3 linked regions of the Homo sapiens genome follow. The protein of the gene in region 1 purifies or fractionates together with the protein of each later gene. This does not show direct contact. Each region holds a gene or a part of one and is shown on either strand. Other genes may lie near its edges.

The links.
Region 2: the proteins of EPS8L1 (region 1) and CYFIP1 purify together in Homo sapiens (co-immunoprecipitation; 2 studies listed by BioGRID and IntAct, with this or other methods). This does not show direct contact.
Region 3: the proteins of EPS8L1 (region 1) and CYFIP2 purify together in Homo sapiens (co-immunoprecipitation; 2 studies listed by BioGRID and IntAct, with this or other methods). This does not show direct contact.

What each region holds. Positions count from the first base shown.
Region 1 is NC_000019.10:55,071,000-55,078,891, reverse strand, and holds the start of EPS8L1 (epidermal growth factor receptor kinase substrate 8-like protein 1), read right to left. Parts: upstream 3,024-7,892; 5' UTR 2,973-3,023; exon of another isoform or gene 2,485-2,972; 5' UTR 2,448-2,484; coding exon 2,431-2,447; intron 805-2,430; coding exon 764-804; intron 1-763. UniProt on the Homo sapiens protein: Stimulates guanine exchange activity of SOS1. May play a role in membrane ruffling and remodeling of the actin cytoskeleton.
Region 2 is NC_000015.10:22,970,352-22,977,378, forward strand, and holds part of CYFIP1 (cytoplasmic FMR1-interacting protein 1), read right to left. Parts: intron 1-7,027. UniProt on the Homo sapiens protein: Component of the CYFIP1-EIF4E-FMR1 complex which binds to the mRNA cap and mediates translational repression. In the CYFIP1-EIF4E-FMR1 complex this subunit is an adapter between EIF4E and FMR1.
Region 3 is NC_000005.10:157,325,113-157,332,139, forward strand, and holds part of CYFIP2 (cytoplasmic FMR1-interacting protein 2), read left to right. Parts: intron 1-369; coding exon 370-526; intron 527-1,058; coding exon 1,059-1,155; intron 1,156-2,860; coding exon 2,861-2,937; intron 2,938-5,629; coding exon 5,630-5,738; intron 5,739-7,027. UniProt on the Homo sapiens protein: Involved in T-cell adhesion and p53/TP53-dependent induction of apoptosis. Does not bind RNA. As component of the WAVE1 complex, required for BDNF-NTRK2 endocytic trafficking and signaling from early endosomes.

The DNA.
Region 1 (7,892 bases):
AGCCCCCCAGCCCCTCTTCCCTCTGACCCAGGAGTCCAGGCCCCCAGCCCCTCCTCCCTCAAACCCAGGAGTCCAGGCCCCCAGCCCCTCTTCCCTCTGACCCAGGAGTCCAGCCCCCCAGCCCCTCCTCCCTCTGACCCAGGAGTCCAGACCCCCAGCCCCTCTTCCCTCTGACCCAGGAGTCCAGGCCCCCAGCCCCTCTTCCCTCTGACCCAGGAGTCCAGGCCCCCAGCCCCTCTTCCCTCTGACCCAGGAGTCCAGCCCCCCAGCCCCTCTTCCCTCTGACTCAGGAGTCCAGACCCCCAGCCCCTCTTCCCTCTGACCCAGGAGTCCAGCCCCCCAGCCCCTCTTCCCTCTGACCCAGGAGTCCAGCCCCCCAGCCCCTCTTCCCTCTGACCCAGGAGTCCAGCCCCCCAGCCCCTCTTCCCTCTGACCCAGGAGTCCAGCCCCCCAGCCCCTCTTCCCTCTGACCCAGGAGTCCAGCCCCCCAGCCCCTCTTCCCTCTGACCCAGGAGTCCAGGCCCCCAGCACCTCTTCCCTCTGACTCAGGAGTCCAGGCCCCCAGCCCCTCCTCCCTCAAACCTAGGAGTCCAGCCCCCCAGCCCCTCTTCCCTCTGACCCAGGAGTCCAGACCCCCAGCACCTCTTCCCTCTGACTCAGGAGTCCAGACCCCCAGCCCCTCCTCCTCCAAGACCCTGGATGCCAGGTCCTGTTTCTTTAGACCCAGTTCTATGGGCCTGGGGCTCCCTTGCCCCCCGCTCACCATAGATAGACTTGGCGCTTGGCTTTGGGGCAGCTTCTGGGCTGGTGAAGAAAAGAGGAATGAGAGAGACTGTGGGACTGGGGGCAGATCCTGTGGAAATGCCAAGCAGGGCAGCAAGGGCTTCATGACGAAGGTAATGGGGAGCGATGGAAGGGTTATTATTATTATTATTATTATTATTATTATTATTATTATTGAGCAGGAGAGCTCAGAGCCAGAGCTGGACTTTAAGAAGACAGGTAGGCTGGGCGCGGTGGCTCACGCCTGTAATCCCAGCACTTTGGGAGGCAGAGGTGGGCGGATCACAAAGTCAAGAGATTGAGACCATCTTGGCCAACATGGTGAAACCCTGTCTCTACTAAAAATACAAAAATTAGCTGGGTGTGGTGGTGGGCGCCTGTAGTGCCAGCTACGTGGGAGGCTGAGGCAGGAGAATCACTTGAACCTGGGAGGCGGAGGTTGCAGTGAGTCCAGATCGTGCCACTGCACTCCAGCCTGGCAGCAGAGTGAGACTCCATCTCAAAAAAAAAAAAAAAAAAAAAAAGACAGGTCAGGTCAGGCGGTGGTGCTGGGTGGTAGGGGAGTGTGATCTCTACCATGGCATAGTCCGGGATTCAAACCCTCTGTCTACTGCCTCCTTGCCATAAGACCTTCAGAAGAGGATTTAATCTCTCCTGCCTCAGTTTTTCTTTCTGTAACGTAGTAACCATCTGGTAGGGCTGTTGGGCAAATTCAGTCAGATGATGCAGGTGAAGTATTTTGAAGCCTCAATAACTGTTATTATCATTCTTAAGATGCTGCCAGGGCTTAGCACACAGAAGTTGCTCAATAAATGGGAATGGTTATAATAGCATTAGTGGTATCTGAAGTAGACAGGGAATTATCTGCTTCCCCTCCCACTCCCATGGGCCAGGTGCTTCCCAACCACATCCTTCTCTGTCTCCTCCCGTCCTCAATTTCTTCCTAAGATTACCTTTCCTAAGAATTCTTGAATCCCCACTTGCATGCACATAACAGAAGCTCAGCGATCAGGTGGCGTCAGGGGAACTGAAAAACCCTTTTTCCCAAACTCCTGTTCCTCATCCTGCTCCTGCCAGTCTGATGTCACCACAATTTGATTACCTCTGGGCCAGAGAGCTCACTACCTACCATGCAGGTATTTTGACTCATCTCTCATTGTTTTTCTCCCTGCTTACTCTGGGGGACTTGAGTCTTCATTATAAACAGCCCTGATTTTCTAGCAAAGGGTTAATATTTACTAACAACATAACAATCGCAATAGCGACTCCTATGAGTTGAGCACCTGCTGTCAGTGAGGTGGTCAGCTAAGTCCTGTAATGCACTATCCCTCCAATTTTTCAACATTGTCCCTGTGTCACAGAGGAGGGGCTGAGGCTCCAGGAGGTGATGTCCTCTGACCAGGGTTACATCAGCACTGAGTGTGAGGGCCGAACTGGAGCTCAGGCCTGTCTGCTCTGCAGTGGGGGCCCCTAACCCCAGGCTGGGCAGGGAGGAGAGAGGCTCTGGCTTCCTCCTGAGTGTCGGGGCTTGGGCCAGAGTCTGGGCCGCCGCAAACAGTCTGGGCTGCCGCAAGCGGGTGTGGGTGAGGAGGCGAGGGGAGGCGGGAGGCGTGCTGGGGCTGGGACCTGGGGTCCGGGGGCGCTTACCCTGTGGCGGTGCTCATGGTGCTGAGTGGTAGCTCCTGCCCACCTGGAGGTGCCCTGGGAGCCAGCAAACATGTGAAGGCCTGGCCAGTAGGAGCCTCTAATTCCTACCCCAGCCTCCTCCCTCAATGCAGGCATCCAGGCCCCAGCCCCTCCTCCCTCAGGCCCAGGAGTCCAGGCCCCCAGCCCCTCCTCCCTCAGACCCAGAAGTCCAGGCCCCAGTCCCTCTTCCCTAGACCCAGGAGTCCAGACCCCAGTCCCCTCCTCCCTCAGACCCAGGAGTCCAGACCCCAGTCCACTCCTCCCTCAGACCCAGGAGTCCAGGCCCCATCTCCTCCTCCCTCAGACCCAGGAGTCCAGGCCCTCAGCCCCTCCTCCCTCAGACCTAGGAGTCCAGGACCCCAGGCCCTCCTCCCTCAGACCCGGGAGTTCAGACCCCCAGCCCGTCCTCCCTGAGACCCTGGAGTCCAGACCCCAGTCCCCCCGTCCCTCAGACCCATTGGTCAAGCCCCGGCCCCCTTCTCTCCTGACCCGGATCTCCTTACCTGCCTGCTCAGGCTCTGCCCTGCTCTCCGCTGTCCTTTCCCTTCCAGGCTGCCGGCCCCTCCTCCTGCTCCCTCCCAGGGCCGTCCTGCCTCCGCCTCCGCCTCCGCATACCTGAGCATTCACCTGGCACAGCCTGGCTGGAGTGACCCCGGGGCGGGGCTGGCAGACAGATCTAGGAGGGGCTGGGGGGACTGCAGGGGAGCTGGGAAACTAACTGTCTGCCTTGTAGCAACAGAATAATAGCAACGAACAGTACATTTGATGTCACACTTGTTCACAGGTCAGAGTTGAAAGCTCTGTCTTTAAAACTCCCTTGAAATTCTAACAGCGGGAGGAAGTTCGAGGTTTGATTCCTGCTTGACAGATGAGGAAGCTGAAGGCCAGAGAGGTTGAGCAACTTGTCCATTTCAGCACTTGGTTAAGGAGGGATTTGAACCCGGGGCTGACCTTCTGTCTCCAGGGCCAGTGGCAGCCCGTCTTCTATGGACACCTCCTGCCCACGATCACTGCCTCTGCTCATGCCCTTACCTCCCCACCCATCCCGTTCCACCTTCCTTTGGAAATTTCCCTCAATGACCCCCCTATTCTGACAAAAGCTAAGATTTAGCTCGATAATGCCTGGCCCAGCTCCAAGGACATCACAAAAATGAACAGGCTTTCCAGGCATAAACACCTTTCTGAAATCACTTTTCCAGAACTCCCTCCATGCTGTAGAGGTTACTAGCAAAGCTTTCCACATCATTTCTCCCCAGAGCCCCGTGAGGGGAGTGTGTCTGGGTGGGAGGCTGTCTTCGTCTCACAGATGAGAAAATGAGGAAGAGAAGGGTTAAGAAACTTGCATGGGTACAGTGGCTCACATCTCTAATCCCAGCACTTTGGGAGGCCGAGGCAGGCAGATCACCTGAGGACAGGAGTTCGAGACCAGCCCAGCCAACATGGTGAAACCCCATCTGTACTAAAAACACAAAAATTATCCAGGTGTGGTGGCGGGTGCCTGTAATCCCAGCTACTCAGGAGGCTGAGGCAGGAAAATCACTTGAACCCGGGAGGCAGAGGTTGCGGCGAGCCGATAATTGCACCACTGCACTCCAGCCTAGGCAAGAGAGCGAGGCTCCATCTCAAAAAACAGAAAACAGGCCGGGCGCAGTGGCTCACACCTGTAATCCCAGCACTTTGGGAGGCCGAGGCGGGTGGAACACGAGGTCAGGAGATCGAGACCATCCTGGCTAACACGGTGAAACCCCGTCTCTACTAAAAATACAAACAATTAGCCGGGCGTGGTGGTGGGCACCTGTAGTCCCAGCTACTCGGGAGGCTGAGGCAGGAGAATGGCGTGAACCTGGAAGGCGGAGCTTGCAGTGAGCCGAGATTGCGCCATTGCACTCCAGCCTGGGCGACAGAGCGAGACTCTGTCTCAAAAAAGAAGAAAAAAAAAAAGCTGACATCTTGCAAGGCCTTAAGGGACGTGATTCTGATCTCATCTCTTCCTTCTGTGTGTCAGCACACTGGCCTCCTTGCTGCTCTTGGAACATCCAGACCCGGTCCTGCCTCAGGGCCTTTGCACTTGCTGTTTCCTCTGCCTGGAATGCTCTTCTACCAGATACCCTCATGCCTCACTTTCTTGCCTCCTTTGATCTTTGCCTGAATGTCACCTTCTCAGAGGACTGGCTGACCACCCTGTTTCAAATGGCGGCATCCCTTACTCGACTTCTTTTGTTTTTTTTGAGACAGAGTTTCACTCTTGTTGCCCAGGCTGGAGTGCAGTGGCGCAATCTTGGCTCACCGCAACCTCCGCCCCCCCAGGTTCAAGTGATTCTCCTGCCTCAGCCTCCTGAGTAGCTGGGACTACAGGCGCGCGCCACCACGCCCGGCTAATTTTGTACTTTTAGTAGAGACAGCATTTCACCATGTTGGCCAGGATGGTCTCGATCTCTTGACCTCGTGATCTGCCCGCCTCGGCCTCCCAAAGTGCTGGGATTATGGGTGTGAGCCACCGCCCCCGGCAACCCAACTTCTTTGTAGTCTCTTTCCTCTCTCCCTACTTCATTTTTGTGTGGAGAACTTTTCACCTTCTTACCCACTGTGTTCCTGGTTCATTTTGTCTGTGTCTCCTCCGTTAGAATGCAAGCTTCACAGGCTGGGCACGGTGGCACATGCCTGTAATCCCAGCACTTTGGGAGGCTGAGGCGGATTGATCACTTGAGGTTGGGAGTTCGAGACCAACCTGGCCAACATGGTGAAAGCACGTCTCTACTGAAAATATGAAAATTAGCCGGGGGTGGTGGTGTACACCTGTAATCCCAGCTTCTTGGGAGGCTGAGACAAGAAAATTGCTTGAACCCCGGAGGTGGAGGTTGCAGTCAGCCGAGATCACACCATGTCACCAACATGATAAAACCCCATTTCTACTAAAAAAAAAAAAATTAGCCAGAGTTGGTGGTGCACACCTGTAATCCCAGCTTCTTGGGAGACCAAGGCAAGAGAGTCACTTGAACCTGGGAGGTGGAGGTTGCAGTGAACCGAGATGATCGTGCCACTGCACTCCAGCCTGGGTGACAGAGCGAGACTCCATCTTAAAAAAAAAAAAAGCGGCCGGGTGTGGTGGCTCACGCCTGTAATCCCAGCACTTTGGGAGGCCGAGGCGTGTGGATCACGAGGTCAGGAGATTGAGACCATCCTGGCTAACATGGTGAAACCCCGTCTCTACTAAAAATACAAAACAATTAACCAGGCTTGGTGGTGGGTGCCTGTAGTCCCACCTACTCCGGAGGCTGAGGCAGGAGAATGGCGTGAACCCGGGAGGTGGAGATTGCAGTGAGCCAAGATTGCTCCACTGCACTCCAGCCTGGGTGACAGAGCAAGACTCCATCTCAAAAAAAAAAAAAAAAAAATGCAAGCTTCACAAGGGCAAAGATTTTTGTGTGATCAGTCCTCCACTTAATCTGCAGCACACAGAATTGGGTCTAGCACATAGAAAGTGTTGGAGAGATACTTGTTGAGTAAACGAGCTTTTGGCATTTGGTGCATTCATGTGCATTACTGCTTTGTTGCTTCATTCAAGATATGTTGCCTCCACGGTCTATGCTGAGTGAGCCTGGAAATCAGAGAAGGCACATTTTTGCCTTCGATTGATGGGGATGAAGGAACAGAGAGAAAGAGATATAGTGTGGTCTGATGGCAGAGAGCCTCGGGCAGGTGTGGGTCTGAATCCTGGCTTTGCCACTTGATAATTTTGGAGATACTTATTGTGTGCTTATATCTTCTCAGTACATCATAAATGTGTGTGTGTGTGTGTGTGTGTGTGTATGCATAATCCTCACCACATCCTATGGAATGGGTCCTATTATCCCCATTTTTTTTCTTAATTGAGACAAGGTCTAGTTCTGTGGCCCAGGCTAGAATGCAGTGTCATAATCACAGCTCACTGCAGTCTCGACCTACTGGGGTGATCCTCCCATCTCAGACTATATATAAATATATATACACATATATATAGTAGAGTCTCCTTATGTTGCCCAGGCTGGTCTCCAACTCCTGGGCTCATGTGATACTCCTGCCTTATCCTCCCGAAGTGCTGGGATGACAGGCATGAGCCACCCACCACACCCAGCTTATTGGGAGGATAAAGTCAGGTTATAGAGAGTTGTCAATACAGTACCTGGCAAAGAGGAAACGCAAGGCTGGTGTTAGCAATGGCGAGGACGATGGCCTTTCTTCCCATGCGTGCTGCAAGGGAGGACACGAGGGGCTCTGCCAAGGCCAGGAGAGGCTGCTGAGGGTCAGGACAGGCTGCCTGGAGGAGGAGGACAGGCTGCCTGGAGGAGGAGGGCAGGCCAGGAATCACCTTGAAGGATGAGTTTGACAGCCAGTGTCAATCCTAGAAGATAGGGGTGTTCTGGGCCCTGCAACTGCCTGAGTGAAGGATGGGGGCTGCAGGGGTGGCCAGCGGGGCTAGACTGTGAGCTCCTGGCTACCCAGCAGGTGGTCCTGGTGCGTGTAGCAGCGGGTGGGGGAGGTAGGGGTGGAAGGAGGGCCCTTACGCTTCTCTTTCTTTGGCTTCTGCAATTCTGTGTTCTCATCACATTCATGCCACAAGTATTTTCTGTGCTTGACTGTACCTGAGTTGGGGTTTGAGGGAAGGAGCAGACCCCTTGCCCCATTGACAGGAGAAAACAGAGGCTCAGAGAGGGAAGTCAGTAGCCTAAGGTTACAGTGGCCCTGGGCTGTGACACAGATGCAGATCTGACTGGGCCTGGGCTCATTTCTTCATGAACAAGGGGAGAAAACTATCTCATAGAAGCATTTGGTATGGGTCCGAGGCCTTTGGGTCTGAGGGAGGAGGGGCTGGGGTCTGGACTCTTGGGTCTGAGGGAGGAGGGGCTGGGGGCCTGGACTCCTGGGTCTGAGGGAGGAGGGGCTATCTCATTGCTTTGGGGGTGGCGCAGGCGGCCCTCCAGGCCATGGTCTGGAGCAGCAGGTGAGACCGAAACCCGAGCCTCCACCCAAGTCCCAAGTCCCAGGGCCCAGGGCCTCTTTCCTCCTTCTCTGGCCGCAAAGGAGGCCCCTCCCTCTCTGTAACCCACAGCAAATGCCTCCCAAATACCAGTCAAAGTGTCCACCCCTGCACAGTCTGACTCAGCCAGTCCAGGGCGGAGGCAGTAAAGCCCTGTCTTGGCAAGTCACCAGGGAAATCCATCACCGAAGCACCTCTCTCCCCCCTCGGCCTGGCTATTCTGTCATTGGCACCTGTTCTTGGGTGAGTGACAGGGCTCTGTGGTCAGGGTTTGCCTCTGTCCCAGTCTGGGATAGCTGTCTTGGGGGGCTGGCCTTTCTTCCCTCTCACCTGGGATGTCCCAGGAACGGAACAGAATTCTCCCCTGGGGCTTGAAGAGCTCACCCCCCATCTCCTCCGTTATCCC
Region 2 (7,027 bases), on another chromosome or scaffold:
AAGATGACAATACAATCCAAAGCCTTCTAAAGACTCAATGCAATCCCTTTGAAAATTCCAACAGCACTTTGTTTTTGCAAAAATAACCCATTTTAAAATTCATAGGAATCTCCAAGGACCCAGAATAGCCAAAGCAATCTTGAAAAAGATGAACAAAGTTGGAGACTTCACTCCTTTTTATTTCAAAACTTACCATAAAGCTACAGTAATTGAAACAGTGTGGCACTGGCATAAAGAAAGGCATACTGGCCAATTAAACAGAACAAAGAACCCAGACATAAACCTTCACATATGTGGCCAAACAATTTTCAACAATGATGTCAAGATCATTCAATGGAAAAAGAATAGTCTTTTCAACAAATTGTGTTAGGAAAACTGAATATCCACACATACATGAATTATGTTGGACCATTACCTTATATAATATACAGAAAAGTTAATTTGGCCTGGCGTGGTGGCTCACTCCTGTAATCCCAGCACTTTGGGAGGCCGAGTCGGGCAGATCACAAGGTCAAGAGATCGAGACCATCCTGGCTAACACGGTGAAATCCCGTCTCTACTAAAAATACAAAAAATTAGCTGGGTGTGGTGGCGGGGGCCTGTAATCCCAGCTCCTAGAGAGGCTGAGGCAGGAGAATCGCTTGAACCCGGGAGGCGGAGCTTGCAGTGAGCCGAGATTGCGCCACCGCACTCCAGCCTGGGCGACAGAGCAAGGATCTGTCTCGAAAAAAAACCAAACACACACACAAAAAAGAAAAGTTAATTCAAAACAGATCAACGCCTAAACATCGGATCTAAAACTATAAAACTCTTAGAAGAAAACAGGAGAAATGCTTCATGACATCAGATTTGGCAATGATTTCTTGGATATGACACCAAAAACACTGGCAACAACAGAATTAATAGACCAGGTGCTGTTGCTCACATCTGTAATCCCAACACTTTGTGAGGATGAGGTGGGAGGATCACTTGAGCTCAAGAGTTCAAGACTAGCCTGGGCAACACAGCTAGACCTTGTCTCTACTAAAAAATAAAATAAGGCTGGGCGTGATGGCTCATGCCTGTAATCCCAGCACTTTGGGAGGCCAAGGCAGGCAGATCGCTTGAGGTCAGGAGTTCCAGACCAGCCTGACCACCATGCAGAAACCCTATCTCTGCTAAAAATACAAAATTAGCCAGGCGTGGTAGTGGGCGCCTGTAATCCCAGCTTGAGTAGCTTGAGGCTGAGGCAGGAGAACTGCTTGAACACGGGAGGCAGAGGTTGCGGTGAGCCAAGATTGCGCCATTGCACTCTAGCCTGAGCAACAAGACCAAAACTCTGTCTCAAAAAAAAAAAGAAAAAAGAAAAAGAAAAGAAATAAAATAAAAAGTAGCTGCACGTGGTGGCTCACACCTGTAGTCCCAGACACTCAGGAGGCTGAAGTGGGAGGATCGCTTGAGCCCAGGATATCAAAGCTGCAGTGAGCCATGACTGCACCACTGAACTCCAGCCTGGGTAACAGCCTAGGTAACTCATCTCAAAAAATAAATAAACAATAGATAGTACCCAAAGCAATCTACAAATTCAATGCAATCTACAGGTTCAATGCAATCTACAGATTCAAAGCAATCTACAGATTCAATGCAATCTACAGATTCAATGCAGTCTCTATCAAAATACCTACCATATTCTTCATGCAAATAGAAAAAGAAATCCTAAAATTTGTGTGGAACCACAAAAGACTTGGAATAGCAAAAGCTATCCTGAGCAAAAGAACAAGGCTGGAGGCATCACACTACCTGACTTCAGAATATACTACAGAGGCTGGGCATGGTGGCTCCCGCCTGTAATCCCAGCACTTTGGGAGGCTGAGGTGGGCGGATCACCTGAGGGCAGGAGTTCGAGACCAGCCTGGCCAACATGGTGAAACACCGTCTCTGCTAAAAACAAAAAAATTAGCTGGGTGTGGTGGCGCACGCCTGTAATCCCCAGCTACTCAGGAGGCTGAGGCAGGAGAATCGCTTGAACCCGGGAGGCGGAGGTTGCAGTGATCCAAGATTGCGCCATTGCACTCCAGCCTGGGTGACAGAGTGAGACTCCGTCTCAAAAACAAAACAAAACAAAAAAAACTACAGAGATATAGTAACCCAAACAGCACACTATTGTCATAAACACAGACACATAAACCAATGGAACAGAATAGAGCCTGGAAATAAATGCATGCATTTGCAGCCAACTGATTTTTAACAAAGGTGCCAAGAACACACAATGAGAAAAGGATAGGTTCTTCAATAAACGGTGTTGAGAAAACTAGATACACACATACAGAAAAATAATATCAGACCTTGGCTTCTCAACATAGACAAAAATCAACCCGAAATGAATTAAAGACTTAAATGTGGCCAGGTGCGGTGGCTTAGCCTATAATCCCTGCGAAGCCCAGGCAGGGGGATCACCTGAGCTCAGGAGTTTGAGACCAGTCTGAGCAACATGGTGAAACCTTATTTCTACAAAAAAACACAAAAATTAGGCGGTGGCTCACACCTGTAATCCCAACACTTTGGGAGGCTGAGGCAGGAGGATCACTTGAGGTAAGGAGTTTGAGACTAGCCTGGCCAACATGGTGAAACCCTGCCTCCACTAAAAATACAAAAATTAGCCGGGCATGGTGGTGCACACCTGTAATCCCAGCTACTCAGGAGGCTGAGACAGGAGAATCGTTTGAACCTGGGAGACAGAGGTTGCAGTGAGCCAAGATCGCGCCACTGCTCTCCAACCTGGGCGACAGAGTGAGACTCCGTCTCAAAAAAACAAAACAACAACCAACCAAAATTTAGCCAGGCATGATGGTGCACACCTGTAGTGCCAGGTACTGGAGAGGCTGAGGTGGGAGAATTGCTTAAGCCCAAAAGGGCAAGGCTGCAGTAAGCCATGATTGCCCCACTGCATTCCAGCCTGGGTGACAGAACGAGACCTTGTCAAAAAAAAAAAAAAAAAAAAAAAAGGGAGAAGAAACTCCCTAACCATTAGCAGTTATTCTCACTTTTTCTACCCGTTCTTCACTGATCCTCTCTCCCCTGCTTTCTGGCCCCAGGCAATCACCTGTCTACTCTCTGTCTCTGTATATTTGCCTATTCTGGACTTTCCCCCTTGTATCTAACTGTAAATGTGTATCCTTTGACCAACATCTTCCTCTCTCCCCTTCCGCCAGCCACCCCAGCCTCTGGTAACCACCATTCTGCTCTGTTCTTCTGTGGCATCAGCGTTTTCAGATTCCACATGTGAGTGAGATCGTGCAGTACTTGTCTTTCTGTGCCTGGCTTATTTTGAGGAAATAAAGCCTCAAAAGCAAAGGCCACAAAAGAAAAAATAGACAAATGGGATTACATCAAACTAAAAATGTTCTGCACAGCAAAGGAATCAATCAACAAAGTGACAATCTACAGAATGCAGGAAAATATCTGCAAACCATATAACTAATAAGGGATTAATAATGAAAATATACAAAGAATTCAAACAACTCAATTGTAAAAGATCTGAATGGATATTTCTCAAAAGAAGGTGTACAAGTGGCCAACAGGTGTATGAAAAAATGCTCAACATCGCTAATCATCAGGGAATCCAAATCAAAACCACAATGAGCTATCACCTCACACCTGTCAGACTGGCTCTTGTCAAAAAGGCAAAAGATAACAAGTGTTGTCCAGGGTGTGGAGAAAGGGAAACCCTTGTACACTGTTGGTGGAGATGTAAATCAGTATAGCCATTGTAGAAAACAGTGCCGGGGGTTCCTCAAAATATTAAAAATAGAACTACCATATGACCCAGCAACACCACTGTTGGGTATATATCTAAAAGAAATGAAATCCGTATGTCCAAGAGATCGCTGTACCCCATGTTTATTGCAGCACCTTTCACAACAGCCAAGACATGGAATCAACCTAACTGTCCATCAACAGATGAGCAAGGCCGGGCCTGGTGGCTCACATCTGTAATCCTAGCACTTTCAGGAGGAAAGGAGGATTGCTCCAGCCCAGAAGTTCAAGACCAGCCTGGGCAACATAGTGATACCCCATCTCCATTTAAAAAATAATTAAAATTAAAAAAACAAAAACAGGCCGGACACGATGGCTCATGCCTATAATCCCAGTACTGGGAGGCCGAGGCAGATGAATCACTTGAGGCCAGGAGTTCGAGACCAGCCTGGCCAACACGGTGAAACCCCTTCCTCTACTAAAAATGCAAAAAAATTAGTCAGGCTTGGTGGCACCTCCTGTAATCCCAGGTACTTGGGAAGCTGAGGCATGAGAATCACTGGAACCCAGGAGGCGGAGGTTGCAGTAAGCTGAGATCACACCACTGCACTCCAGCCTGGGTGACAGAGTGAGACCCTGTCTCAAAACAAACAAACAAAAACTGGATTATGGTGATGGTTGTTGCACAGCTCCAGAAATCTTCTAAAAATTATTGTATAGTTGTCCCTGAAACAACACGTGTTTGAACCATGCGGGTCCACTTATTTGCAGACTTTTTCCAGTAAAAGTTACACGGTGTATGCCTGCCTCTCTAGCCCCTCCTTCCACCTCCCTCCACTTCTGCCTTTGCCACCCCCAAGACAGCAAAACCAACCCATCCACTTCCTCCTCCTTGGCCTGCTCACTGTGAGCTTTTTGAGGATGGAGACCTTTCTGATGATCCACTTCCACGTGATGAGTAGTCAGTTTATTTCCTCTTCCTCATGATTTTCTTAACAACATTTTCTTTTCTCTAGCTTACTTTATTATGAGAACACAGTATGTAATACATATAACTTACAAAATCTCTGTTAATCAACTGTTTATGTTATCAGTAAGGTTTCTGGTCAATAGCAGGCTATTCGTAGTTTTAACTTTTGGGAAGTCACGTAGTTTTAACTTTTGAGAAGTCAAAAGTTATACTTGTCCAGCCTGGCCAACATGGTGAAATCCCATCTCTACTAAAAATATAAAATTAGCCAGGCATGGTGGCGGGTGCCTGTAATCTCAGCTACTCAGGAGGCCGAGGCAGGAGAATCGCTTGAACCCGGGAGGCAGAGCTTGCAGTGAGCCGAGACAGAGCGAGACTCCGTCTCAAAAAAAAAAAAAAAAAAAAAAAAGGTTAAAGGCCAGGCTCGGTGGCTAACGCCTGTAATCCCAGCACTCTGGGAGGCAGAGGCAGAGGCGGGCAGATCACCTGAGGTCAGGAGGTCGAGATCAGCCTGACCAACACAGTGAAACCCCCTCTCTACTAAAAATACAAAATTAGTGGGAGTGGTGGCGCATGCCTGTAATCCAAGCTACTTGGGAGGCTGAGGCAGGAGAATGGCTTAAACCCAGGAGGCAGAGGTTGCAGTGTGCCAAGATCGTGCCATTGCACTCTATCCTGGGCAATAAGAGCGAAACTCCATCTCAAAAAAAGTTACACTCGGATTTTCAACTGCACAGGGGGTTGGAATCCCTAACCCCCTCGTTCACAGGCCAGCCAAACGTATACTTAAAAGTAGGTGAATTTTATAAAGTAGGTATATTATACCTCAATAAACAAAATTTTTGTTTAAAATTTTTGTTTTTAAAGCATGCTAATATTTTTAAATTGGAATTGGGTTAAATTTATAGATCAATATGAAGAGAACTGATGTCTTTACTATGTTGAGTGTTCCAACCACTGACCATGGTATGTTCCCCCATTTACTTAAATGATCTTTGATTTCTCTCATCTTCAGCATACAGATCCTGTAAGTCTTATTCAATGTATACCTAAGTATTTGATTCCTTTGAAGCAAACGAAATGTTGTGTTTTTAAATTTAATTTTCTTTTTTTTTTTTTGAGACGGAGTCTCGCTCTGTTGCCCAGGCTGGACTGCAGTGGCGCGATCTCGGCTCACCACAACCTCCGCCTCCCGGGTTCAGGCGATTCTCCTGCTTCAGCCTCCTGAGTAGCTGGGACTACAGGCGCACGCCACCATGCCCAACTAATTTTTGTATTTTTAGTAGAGACAGGGTTTCACTATGTTGGCCAGGCTGGTCTCGAACTCCTGCCCTTGTGATCCGCCCGCCTCGGCCTCCCAAAGTGCTGGGATTACAGGCGTGAGCAACCACGCCCAGCCAAATTTAACTTTCTAATTGTACATTGCTAGTACAGTAGTCCCCACTTACCTGTAGTTTCATTATCTGCAATTTCTGTTTCCCCAGTTATAGCTGCCTACAGTCAACTGCCCTCCAAAAATAGGTGAGTGCATACAAAAAGATATTTTGAAAGAGAGAACACATTTATATAACTTTTATTCAGTATATAATTATTCTATATTATGAACAGTTATTGTTGGTAATCTCTTACTGCGCCTAATTTGTAAATTAAGCTTTATCATAGGCATAGATGTATAGGGAAAAAAACCACAGTACACGGAGGGTTCTGTCTTATCTCAGGTTTCAGGCTTCCATTGGAACGTATCGTCCATGGATAACAAGGACTGTTGTAAACAGAAATAAGGTCAGCTTGTATAGTGTTGACTTTGCATGTATCTCCCCATGGATAAGGGGCACTGCTGTATGCAGAAATAAGGTCGCCAGGCCGGGCCCGGTGGCTCACGCCTATAATCCTAGCACTTTGGGAGGCCGAGGCAGGCGGATCACCTGAGGTTGGGAGTTCCAGACCAGCCTGACCAACACGGAGAAACCCCATCTCTACTAAAAACACAAAATTAGCCAGACATGGTGGCACATGCCTGTAATCCCAGCTACTCGGGAGGCTGAGGCAGGAGAATCGCTTGAACCCGGGAGGCAGAGGTTGCGGTGGGCCGAGATCGCACCATTGCACTCTAGCCTGGGCAACAAGAATGAAACTCTGTCTCAAAAAAAAAAAAGAAAAATAAGGTCGCCTTCTGTGTGTTGACTTTGTATCTTGTGACCTTGCTAACCTCATTAATTAGTTCTAGTAGCTTTTTCATAGATTCCCTGGATTTTCTATGTAGATAATCATGTTGTCAGCAAATAGGGACAATTTTCCCTTTCCAATTTGTATGCCTTTTCT
Region 3 (7,027 bases), on another chromosome or scaffold:
TATAGGCATGAGCCTCTGCGCCCGGCCACGAGCGTACTTTTCATGCTTAGGTTGCAGGTTTTGTAGGAGAGTGATGGCTTTGTAGGAGAGGGATGGGAACTATAGGGGCATCTAAAGCTCTAAAACATCACTGCCTCCTCTTCTCCCCCACCAGCCCACAACCACTGCCTCTCAAGCTTAACAAATGCTTGAGAGGCAGTAGATGTTAGGCTTGCCTTTAAGTAAAAGAGAGCAGGATCTACTAATCAATATTAGTACCTGCTACATACCTAACACAGTGACAATAACAATGAAAATTAATAAAAACAATGAGAACTAAGGTCTTTTAGTTCTAAAAGTAACCAAAGGCTCGTTCCCTTATGCTTTCAGAAGCCCTGCAGCAGTGTTGTGACCTCTCCCAGCTCTGGTTCCGAGAATTCTTCCTGGAGTTAACCATGGGCCGACGAATCCAGTTCCCCATCGAGATGTCCATGCCCTGGATTCTAACGGACCATATCCTGGAAACCAAAGAACCTTCCATGATGGAGTAAGAGGCAGGATTGGGCCAGCAAGTGGCTCCTGGGGTACAAGTAGAGGGCAGTTTGCCAGGGAGATCCGTTCTTTCCAGAAGGAAGCACTGAGTTGACAAGAAATGAGGCCATATGTCCCACCACAGGGAGAGCTCAGCCAGACAGAATCATTTAATTCAGCCTTGCAGATAAATTCTGAAGTTTCCCAGCCCAACTGCCCTTCCTATGCCTTGTCAGCCTCATAACAGCTATGCTCAGAAAAGAATCATCTCAGGAGCAGGTAGCTTGTATTCTTAACTGCTACCTGATGTGTTTTAGTCCCAAATGAATTTTTACAAGTCTTGGTTTTATTTGCACCCTGGACTTTTTCTTTGGACTGACTGTAAAGTAAGTTGCTTCTAAGCGGTGGAGGCTCAAGGAACGTAAGAGAGGGATGAAAGATGGTCTTTTCCTGACTGTGAACTTGTTTCTATTTCCCAAGCAAGTATAAAGCTGTCTTCCTTAAGGGGGGTTATTAGCAAGCGGCTGGCTGTGTTTTTCCCTCTTCAGGTATGTCCTCTACCCTCTGGATCTGTACAACGACAGCGCCTACTATGCTCTGACCAAGTTTAAAAAGCAGTTCCTGTACGATGAGATAGAAGCTGAGGCAAGTGATGTGCTTCTCTTTTTGCTCCTTTAATCTTGTTCCAAATTCCGGACTTTTCCAGTCTTTTGCTATTAGCATGAAGTAGGAGTATCAGTGACTTGTTCTGGAGAGGAATCTCTGTAACCATGGCCATCAGAAGGCCTGTGTAACCTCTGAGGGCAGAAGTACAAACTGAGACACCCAGCTCAGGGCCTGCTGCCTTTCTCTTCCCACCCACAAACTCTGTGCTGCACCATGAAGGGCTTCATGTGCATGTGTATAAATACCCAAGCTCTGCCTGCCAACTCTGCTCAAAAACAGTGGCCCTTGGCTAGACCTAAACCCTAGGGTCACACACACCCATAGTGGAGTCCACCCTCAGAGGGGAAGCCAGGGAAGAGAGCACGTGGCCCTGGAAGAGGCTTGAGCCGCCTGTAGAAGGCTTCTCAGAACTGGTTCTAGAAGGGGAGAATGGGGCCTGAGTGCACACGCCCACCTTGACCTTATGGATTCTTTGCCTGGAGGGAGGTCCGCTGATGACCCTTGAAGCTCAAAGTGCAGGTCAGAGGCCTCGGTGACCTGGGTCTGAGGAAAGCACTAAACACAGCGCTGGGGTTTTGTGTTCTGCATACCACGTAGGGTGTGAGATGAAAGATCTGAAAGCTTTTTGAATCATTAACCTTATGGAGCCAAGAGTCTGGTGAAAAAAGGACCAAAGGTTAATCACATAAATATTAAACATGAAAGACTTAAAATATTAAATCTGACAGTAAATAGGATCTGTTTCCTTTGACTCTTACCTAGCTACTGCCTTTGCCCCATCTCATGGTCATGTCCTGCTCTTGCCATTTCTGAAATATTTGGTTTGATTCTTCATGTCTGTGTGAATTATCTTCCCACCTGAGCATCACAGTCTATCACTGATGATGAGACCCTGAAATGGCAAGACTTTATTCATTAAAAACCAAAGTTATGTAAGCAAAGTTTGAAGGAAGGCGCTTTTAAATGTGACTATCAACTTCATAAACAAATTTGTGGCCACATGTGGTGGCTCATGCCTGTAATCCTAGCACTTTGGGAGGCCAAGGTGGGTGGATCACCTGAGGTCAGAAGTTCGAGACCAACCTGGCCAACATGGTGAAACCCCGTCTCTACTAAAAATACAAAAATTAGCCAGGCATGGTGGTGGGTGCCTGTAATCCCAGCTACTTGGGAGGCTGAAGGATGAGAATCACTTGAACCCGGGAGGCGGAGGTTGCAGTGAGCCGAGATCACACCACTGCACTCCAGCCTAGGTGACAGAGCAAGACTCTGTCTCAAAAAAAAAAAAAATTGCAAATCAAAGAAAAATACAATGAAAATAACATCCATCTGAAGAGATGGATGGGGAGGCTGCCGAGTTAGCGGACGAATTTGAGCACTGATGGGTTCTGACAGTCTGTCTGTTGCATCCCTCCAGGCAGGCGGCCTCGAAACAGCTGAGGAGAGGGGCCGTGGGGAGATTGGGTCCTTTTTGAACTTTGACTTGTCTGTTCACTGACTGAGGACCCTGAGAGCAAGGGACCAAATCTCCCAAACTTAGCCACAGAATATTTTTCCCCTTCAAAGCGTCTTTCCCCAGAATGCACTCTGGGCAATCCTGCCTGACTGCTGTCTTTCAGTTGGCTCAGTTTCTGTCATAAAGCTGAACGGGCACCAGTGATGTTTCCTGCTTCCTCTCCACCAGGTGAACCTGTGTTTTGATCAGTTTGTCTACAAGCTGGCAGACCAGATCTTTGCTTACTACAAAGCCATGGCTGGCAGGTAGGAAAGCCCCAGAGCTGTGAGTAGCAATCTCTTAAGACTGCCACCTAGAAGACATGATTTTCTGTTGTGAAACCTCCCTTCTTCTTTAGCACCTTAGGAAAACAGAGCCATTCCACGGACCCGGACTGGGTGCTGAGATAGAGTGGAAAGGAAACTAGGCAGATAAAGGGCTAACCTCACACAGCCTGCAGTCCAGCAGGAAAGACAGACATCGACTAAAAGCCGATGAATGCACAGTGACAAGGAGGTTACATGCTGTCTGTGAGGGAAAAGCTCATGGGAATGTACGATGGTTAAACCTTTGGGGGCGGGGAACTAGAAAGGCCATCTTGCGGAAGTGGCATCTGAGTTCTTATCTGAAGTTGGTAGGAGTGAAGGAAGTAAAACGAGGTGAAGGATGGGGCAGGACGTTGCAGGCAAAAGGAACTGCTTGTGCAAGGACCCTGCGGTGGGAGTATGATGATAACAGCATGCCAACTTCACAGGGCTGTGGGAGGATTCCTGTGGATTAATACATGTCAGTGTCTCTTCACCACCACTAGAGGGGGCAAGCTGCATGCTAAGGCTGGGGAGTGGGCAGGGCCAGAGCACACCAGCTTTGTAGCTGTTTCTCCCGGGAGTGGAATGCCTCCGAATGGTTTCAAAAGTACAACCGTGACCCGATTCGATTTTTATTTACTTTTGAAAGTTTACTCTCTTAAAAATATAAATGTATGGAGAATGAATTGGAGAGGAATGGGTGTGTGCAAACCAGACAGGAGGCCAGTGAAGAAGTCTGGATCAGAGATGTATCAAGCTTTAGAGGCTCCTTGGTATTGCCAGTATATGTTGATTCAGACCCTCGTGAGTTCTTGGGTTTCAAGGACCTGTAACAGCATTGATCGAGGAAAACCTCAAATTTTATATATAGGTATTTCCTTTCTTATTGGAAATCCAAACATACCAACCAGTAATTTCAAGGATAGTTCCTTACTTTAATAATTTTTCTATGAAAAGGATTTGCTTCATTTTGCTTTTAACAGCCAAAGTAGCCCTGATATATTTCAAAGAGGAGTTGATGTGCAGCACACACAAGTGTCTGTTAACACAGGATGTGCATTAAATAACGCGACTCTTAAATGCTGTAAAGTATTGAAAGCATGCACGTAGGATTTCAAGGAAAGCAGAGAACACAGCCTTTCACAAAGTAGTCAATAGGCATCTGTGGATTGAATGGGATGTGGTTCTAACAGTGAGTTGAGTTTCTGGCTTCTGTAAGACAATTCTGATTCCAAATACACTGTTCCATCATCTATATAAACAGACTCAGGCGTGTCGAACCCTGGGTCTTCCTTCTTCAGACATATGGGCTTTTATCTACACCCTTCCCTGTAAGATCAGTGATTTTTTAAAGTGTGGGAAGTTGAGGAGGTTGAGAGATTCAGGGAAAGCCCAGGAAGAAAACCATGAGCTAGGTCAGTCCTGTTCATTCAAAATGCCATGTGGCCACAAATATGAGCCAGAGATGTTATTTTAAATTTTTTAGCAGACATATTTTAAAAAGGAAAAAGAAGCAGATGAAATTAATTTTAATAATATATTTTATTTAACCCCACATATCCAAAACATTATAATTTTGACATACACTCAATATAGACATTATTAGAGATTTTTCATTCTTTTCTTCTAAGTCCTCAAAATCCTGTTTACAGCCCATCTCAATTTGGACCAGCCACATCTCAAGTGTTCAGTAGGCACATGTGGCTGGTGGCTACTACTTTGGACAGTGTAAATATAGATGGTGTCTCTTTCTTGCGTAAAACCTTTTGGTGCCTTTTAGTTATGTCTAGAATACACCTAGCCACTTTACTATGGCCTGTGTGGCCCTACCTGGTTTGGCCCTGGTCTCATGTTATAAATTCATTTTGCACCATGCTCTCCAACCTGCACTATACTTTATCCACACTGGCCATCTTTCCTTTTCTTAAATGTAACCAAGCTTGTTGTGTAAATGATAGTGTTCCCTTAGATCTTTCCAATTTTATCATTCAGGTCTCTGTTTAGCAAAACTTCTTTAGAGAGACTTTGGACTTCCTAACTCCAAATGATCCCATTTTCTTATTTTCAAAGCACTTCTCCTCTGCAATCCATGCCTCAGTGTGAAAGATAGTAACACTCTCAGCTCATAGGGTTGTGGTGAGATTTAAAATGTGTGTGTGTGTGTGTGTGTGTGTGTGTGTGTGTGTGTGTGTGTTTGTGTTTAAAGTGCCTGGGAAATAATAAACACTATGCAACTGTTACCTATTATCTGAAATTATTCCATTCCTCTGTTTGTGTTTATATTATCAGTCTTTCCTCACTCGAATATAAACTCCATGAGGACAGGAACTTTGTATTCCCAGTACCCAGAATGTTTCCTGGGATACACCAAGCAGGCACTCAATTGCTTTTGCAGTAAATGAATAAAAGAGGAAAGTGGCTCAACTTCTGTGTTGCCCATCTTTAACTTAGAAACTCTGTTTCACATATTGAGCTTCTGTGACTGAAAAGAAATTTGACGTAACTTGTCTAGAGCAGAAAACAATTTTACTTAAGTTATATAAGATAGTGCTCTGTGGGTAGATCCTATGATCTGAAATAGATGTATCTGGGCAGTTGAGAGTCATTCACAATCTGTTTACTGGCCTTGTTTCACTTTTATTCCTTGCAGTGTCCTGTTGGATAAACGTTTTCGAGCTGAGTGTAAGAATTATGGCGTCATCATTCCGTATCCACCGTCCAATCGCTATGAAACACTGCTGAAGCAGAGACACGTCCAGGTATGGGGAGCAGAAGCCACCTTGGAGATGGAAGGGGCAGGAGAGAGCAGCTGCGAAGTTAGCATAGAGATCAGAAATCAGGCCTGGGTATTGTCTGCCCGGCATGTTGCCAGTGTGGATTTCCGAGCCTGGGTGTAGCACAGCCTCAGGATCTCATAAACAATAAAGAGGCATTGGGCTTCCTTTGGCTCAAGTTCTGGGCTTCTCCACCCATCTATAGCCAACCTCTGACAAGTTATGGCAACCAAAGCCTTTGTCTTCTCATCATAACCTGCAGCCCACTTTTTTCAGCTGGGACTGCCACTTAGAGATGGGTAAATCTGTCCCTGAACAGGGCCCAAGTGCCGGTCTAAGTGAGGAAGACTGTGGCGCCTTTGAAATGAAAGCATGTCAGGGCAAATCCACGGTAGAAATTGGGTTTTTTGTGTGCAGAGTTGGTTTCTATTAACATTTGACCCTATATGTAGAGGAGATGTTGCTGGGAACTGAGAAACATCCCCATTTAATAATATTAATGTGAGGCAGACAGACAGCATAAGAGATGCCCCAGCAGATGTCGAGCCCTCCTCCTACAGCCCTGCTGTTGGCCAAGCGGGTGGCAAAATGGCCTTTATGCTGTGACGTCTGTGTGCTTATTATGTGGTCCTGGTCTTTGTGAAAGGGCCAGGCTGAGGCTAAGATCATGCCAGAGGTGAAAAGGAAAGAATTCATCTCAGAAACCCTGGACATTCCCATTACTATGAGAAATCCAAGGGAGATGGAGAATCATTAAGAGGGGGGAAAAATAGAATTTGTACTTCTGTCAACAACAGGGGCTCAATGAGAGCTTTTCTTTCACCCTTTCAGAAGATTACTGCTATCGGTTACAATGCAGCCAGAATTAGCCACAGGATATTAAATACTGAGGGCTTTATGTGTGCATAAGATGGCTATAAGGGGCCCTGGTCAGTTGGTAGAAAATTGATGCCAAAAGAGAAGTTGAAAAATAAAATAGTTAAGAATAATCATTTGACACCTAGCAAAGTGCTGTGGACACAGCAGGTACTCAACAAATGTTCATTGCTATCTACATAGCAGCTGCAGTAATGCCCGCGTGTACCCCAGTGGAAAGTACCTTAAGTTATATTTTCCATTCTGTAATCAGACCTTCATCCTCTTGCTTTTAAATTTTCCCTCATGAAGGCACAATGTGGGCCCTTGCTGAGGCAGCTGCTGTGCCCTGGTGACTGAATTGAGTGCAAGAAAGATGGCAGAAAGAACCCCAGGGCTAAATTTGGGATGTCAGCAGA